2 separate regions of the Homo sapiens genome follow, and region 2 is linked to region 1. Evidence: fine-mapped expression QTL. A gene starts in region 1. The other region holds a variant in brackets. All regions are shown on one strand. Distances are from middle to middle.

The links.
Region 2: its variant is fine-mapped to the expression of SLC2A5 in whole blood (INTERVAL, PIP 0.94).

Annotation. Positions count from the first base shown.
Region 1 is chr1:9,068,034-9,070,944 of GRCh38, forward strand. SLC2A5 (solute carrier family 2 member 5) reads right to left here and starts at 1,602. Exons shown (of 12, transcript NM_003039.3): 1 at 1,471-1,602. The coding sequence starts at 1,503.
Region 2 is chr1:9,029,282-9,032,192 of GRCh38, forward strand. No RefSeq gene overlaps it. Among named protein-coding and RNA genes, the nearest start is that of SLC2A7, 4.3 kb to the left of the region's middle. The variant TTA/T (reference allele first, on the strand shown) is at 1,256.

The DNA.
Region 1 (2,911 bases):
ACAAAAATTAGCCGGGTGTGGTGGTGCATGCCTGTAATCCCAGCTACTTGGGAGGCTGAGGTGGGAGGATCGCTTGAGCCCAGAAGGTGGAGGTTGCAGTGAACCTTGATCGCACCACTGTACTTCAGCCTGGGTGACAGAGCAAGACTCTGTGTCAAAAAAAAAAAAAAAAAAAAGCGAGAGAGAGAGAAAGAAAAGTAGTAACATTTACGGGGAACTCACTCTGTGCCAGGTACTTTACATGCATTATCTCATTTAATTGCTCCAGCACCCTATGAGGCGGTATGGTTATTACTCCCATTTTACAAATGAGAAAACTGAGGCACTGAAGAGTTAAAGAACTTACCCAAGTCCCACAGCTAGAATAGGATGGAGCAGGAATGAATCCTGGGGGCTTCTACTTCCCAGGCCCACTCTTTTTTTTTTTTTTTTTTTGAGATGAAGTTTCGCTCTTGTTGACCAGGCTGGAGTGCAATGGCGTGATCTCAGCTCATTGCAGCCTCTGTTTCCCAGGTTCAAGTGATTCTCCTGCCTCAGCCTCCTGAGTAGCTGGGATTACAGGCACCTGCCACCACGCCTGGCTAATTTTTGTATTTTTAGTAGAGATGGGGTTTCACCATGTTGGCCAGGCTGGTCTCGAACTGCTGACCTCAGGTGATCCACCCACCTCAGCCTCCCAAGACCCACTCTTAATCTATGTGCTACAGAGCATGTTTCCAGTCTGCCTATGGTGAGGGTCTCACATCCATGCCTGAACAAATGCTGTTTTGCAAAAATGTGCACTATCCTTCCTCCACTCCAAATATAAGCAGATGCTATTGTGATGAATAAATGCAAATTCTTATAAAGTGTTAATAAGTCAGTGTTACTTTTCTGACATTATGCATTTTCCTCAATCAAGGGAATCTAGAAAGTAAACTGCAATTACGTTGCAGGAGTCCATGAAAATCTTTCCTCTCTAAAACAAGGGAGCCTCAGGATCTAAAAGGCAGGAAACCTACGTGACAGATCTGAACTAAATTCAAATCAAGCAACGCCTTTTCTGAGTTTATCTTGCTTTCATGCAGCTCAGCTATGTTACTTGCTGAAAAAATTAACTGCCCTGAAGCCAAAAGCAAAACGAAAGCAGAGCGAAACATCTCACCAACCATAGAAGGATTTTGCAGCTAACATGTTTGGTTCAAGTTGGGACAAATGAATCCTTTGGGTCTCTTCCATTCAGTTACAGATCCTGCTGTTAAAGGCTGTTCCAGTAGAATGATTTCCACAGAGCACTTGTCTCTAAACCTCTCTCCTCCCTATAAAAGACCACCTGCTGGACAAGACTTTCCCCCTCTCCCCACCATAATCCCTCCCAACACAGAGTTCCCTCTGCAACACCAGGAGCCCCCCAGCGACTCTCCAGGAAGGCTGCACAGGCCCTGGCAGCCAAGCCTGCTCTTGGCCCCTTTCCCTGAGCAACACACTCACCCCTTCCTTCATGCTCTGATCCTGTTGCTCCATGCTTGCTCTGGAAGGGCAGAGTGCCGCTCACCTCCTTTTAGCCAAAGTAACGCGTGCACTGAATGGAGAGAGAAGACATTCTGGGTGCACTTTGGCCATGCCAAATAACAGCCAATAGCATTTTTATAGCCAGATTAAGTCAGAATAACCCTTTCAGGAACCTGGTCTTCCTTTCACTTCTGCTTTTAAATGAAACGTCTGGGGTTTGGCTAAGTAAGTGGGTGCCCCCTGGGGACTGCAGGCCCAGCATTGTCCTGATGGAACAGTCTACGGTATTTCCCCATTGCTAAAGTCTCTACCAGTCAGGCTCATGGTGAATGACTGGAAGGGTTATTTCTGTCAGGAACGCATGGCAAACAACAGCTGTCCTCCACCCTACATGACACCAGGTAATCTGAGGGCAACAGATTGGGCCACTAGAGACCTCAAAGATGCTCTCCCTGCCAGGAAAACTACAGTCAAGTGTCTCTTGGTGGAGAGTCAGTTTTGCCCAAGTCACCGTGTAATACTGTTTGGGGAAAGTTTCTCATTTTCTGTTTTTTTTTTTTTTTTTTTTTTTTTTTGAGACGGAGTTTCGCTCTTGTCCCAGGCTGGAGTGCAGTGGCATGATCTCAGCTCACTACAACCTCCGCCTCCCGAGTTCAAGCGATTCTCCTGCTTCCACCTCCTGAGTAGCTGGGATTACAGGCGTGCACTACCACGCTCGGCTAATTTTTATATTTTTAGTAGACACGGGGTTTTGCCATGTTGGCCAGGCTGGTCTCGAACTCCTGACCTCAAGTGATCCACCCTCCTTGGCCTCCCAAAGTGCTGGGATTACAGGCGTGAGCCATCGTGTCCGGCCTCTTATTTTCCATTTTAAGGAGCTCAGAATGACCTAGGGATGTTACTTTCTGTGTATTCATCACTACTGGGAAGGTGGTAAATACCTCGAACCCCTTTCCAGGCAGGGCAGGGAAAATGAGTCACACCTGCTGGTCCGGGTCCGGCCATCTCAAGGCCAGGCCACTGTCAGCCCCCCATGTTTGGCACTCATTCAGCTGCCACAGGGCACACCAGCGCAAGTGGCCAAAATCCAAAGTCTCACAAGTCCCACAGGTTTTCATCTTTACAGAACATACTCCCAGTTCTATTTGCTGTGGCGTAAATCCAGTTACTTTAGTGATTGATTCTGAATCTCATGCATCTTTAAACAAGCAGAGACTGGGAGCCTGTGTTAGGCACTGTTCCTTGCATTAGCAGCAAATCCCCAGGGTTGCTCAGGGTGGGAGACTGTGAGAAGCCTAGCAGCGTGGCCGTCTGTGTGTGTGTGTGTGTTGGGGGGTCGGGGGGGTCCCTATTCACAAGGGAGAACTCAGCATTCCCTTTCACCAGCTACTGCCTGTCTTTTTCTTCTGCGTATCACTGT
Region 2 (2,911 bases), 39 kb before region 1:
TTGTAACAAATTACCAAAAACGTAGTGGCTTAAAACAACACATATTTATCATCTTAGGGGTCTACGTGTCATAAGTCTGACATGGGTCTCACTGGGCTAAAATAAAGGAATCTGCCATGTTACGACACAGCAGGAAGGTCCTCACCAGATGCAGCTCCTCAATCTTGGACTTCAGCCTCCAGAATCATGAGCCAAACACACTTCTGTTGCTTATAAATTGCCTACTCTGTGGTATTCTGTTATAGCAACACAAAATGAACTAAGACATCTGGTAAGAGCAGGGACCCTAGCCAAATTTTCACAGATGGCTCTGGTGACCCACTTGGAGTTCAAGGGTGCAAGGAGGGAAAAGGCATGCATGGTGTTTATCTTCCTGGCTACACTGTAAATTCCTAAAGACAGAAGATGCCATGTATGTATCACTTGCATGTCCCAGTGCTGTGCAGAATGTAGGATGACAAGAGCAGCCCCTCAAACAGCACTGTTAGGGCCAGGTGTGGTGGCTCATGCTGGTAATCCTAACACTTTGGGAGGCCGAGACTGGTGGATCACTTAAGTTCAGGAGCTCAAGACCAGCCTGTGCAACATGGTGAAACCCTGCCTCTACAAAAAATACAAAAATTAGCTGGGTATGGTGGCATGTGTCTGTAGTCCCAGCTACTAGGGAAGCTGAAGGGGGAGGATCACTTGAGCCTGAGTGGTGGAGTTTGCAGATTGCTGAGATAGTGCCGTTGCACTCTAGCCTGGGTGACGGAGTGAGACCCTGTCTTAAAAAAAAAAAAAAGCAAACACATGAAAAAGGGAGAAAAAAAGCACTCAATTCACTGCAGAGTAGTAGGAGGGGAAAGGAAATGTTCAGATGAGAGTGTCAGGATGCCAACTACCTGCTTTCTCATTCTTCCTGCAGGAACTAAAAAATAATCCTGGAGAAAGCAGATTGAAGGGGGCAAGACTCAGTCTAACTAACATTCCAGATTGGAACTTCAGCTCTCCTTTCTGAGCGCCCTTCTGTAATGGAAATGGCCAGTGCACCATGCACTGCCCTGCCCTTGTTCCTGATGTTTCTGTCCTGGTGGTTAAGCCACTAAGCAATACCAGGACACAGGGCAATGGAGTGAGATTTTCACAAAGAAAAATCTATTCAATTTAAAAGACTGAAATTTATTCTGTGATTACATCCTGTCTAGATAGTAAAATGCCCTTTATTTAAAACATTGTTTCCTCAATTTGGTGATGGGAGTTCATTTTTTAAAAA[TTA/T]TATATATATATATATGCAAATTAGAGACACAGTCTCACTTTGCTGCTCAGGCTGGTCTCAAATTCCTGGGCTCAAGCAATCCTGCTGGGATTACAGACATGAGCCACTGCACCTGGCCAGTTTTTAAAAAATGTTTTTATTTGCAAAATGGAAAGAGGCAGCCCGATGTTAGTCTACCAAATTTTGGTATGTGACATCTGGAAGTGTGAAAAACGCTGGTCAAACCTACCTTCCAACTGCCTAATTTGGCTTATGAACATGTCGCCTGGGGGCTGACAACTCCTCCCCAGATCCACTCTTTCTTACTCTGCTGTCAACCATTTAAAATCCTCTTTACCAAGACTCATTCATTCAAAAAGCACTGAATGAATTCCTACTCTGTGCCAGTCACTGTTCCAGGCATGGTGGACACAGTGGTGAGCAAACGGGTCTGAACCTTCTTCAGCTGAACCCTCTTCAGCTCCATCTCTCACCTGCCAAGTGTCCTGACCTTGATCCCATCACAGGGACTTAGCATTGTTATCTGATCTTTGAAGTGTTGATTTTCTGGCCAGAAACCTCTGTGGCCGGTGGCAGCCTTTGCCTGAGTTCTTGTCCCGCATCCAGGAAGAATGAGGTATGCAGACAAGTGGAGGGTGAACAAGATGAAGAGGAGCTTTATTGAGTGTTAGAACAGCTCAGAGGAGGCCCACAGTAGGTAGCTCCTCTCTGTAGGCAGATTGTCCCATCGAGTGTTCAGCTCTCAGTAGAGAGGAGGCCCTGGAGAGGGTAGCTCCTCTCTGCAGCTGGTCATCCTGTCGTCTTTCCATCCTCTGCCCTGTTCTGGCTGAGTCTGGGGCTTTTATGGACCTCAAAGGGGAGGAAGTACATGCCTATTGGTCCATGGGGGGCCATAGGTGGGCCCAGAAAAGGCATCACAAGTCCCCAGTCCAGTCTGGAGGACTGGCAGCCCAGCCGCCAGCCTTTAGGCCCTCCCTGGCCTGAAGGTGGGGTCTTACAGGGACCTGTCCACTTCTGCTCAGGAACCTGTCTGCCTCCCACAGCTGTCTGTGGCACCCGTGTTGCTTGCAGTAAGGGGCACCTGTAGGCCAGCACCGAGCCACCCTCAGCCCCCCTTAAGCTTCCCCTCTTACACTCATCTGTGCCCAAATTCCAGAGGGGGCCAAGGCAGCAGGGGGCTGGCATGTCAGCACTTCCCAGGGTGTATGCACACCCAGCTGAGCTGTGACAGTGCCCAGGCTCAGCCCCAACCCCTCTCCGAGACTGGAGTGGGTGCCAGGAGTGGAGAGAAGCCAGGCAGTGGGAGGAGACATCCCCAAGTCTGTGGGGACAGAGGGGAGGGGTGGGAAGGCCTTGCCGGGCCCCTGAAGGTGCAGACTGCAGAGACGCCTAGGGCCTGCATCTGGTGGGGGGCGCAGGTGGAGGCTGCAGCTGCACCTGGGGAGCTCCCACCCCCATGAACTCAGAAGGGGCGGGGCTCCTGCTTGTCCCTAGCTCCTGCTGGCTCTGGAGCATGCAGCCCTGGCAGTGCCACAGAGATCAAAGTGGGCGCTGACAGCAGGGAGAAGCCAGGCAGCAGAAGCAGGCACTTGCAAGCCTGTGAGGGCAGCGGGACCTTCCTGGGTCCCCAAGAGTGTGGGGATGCCTGAGTCT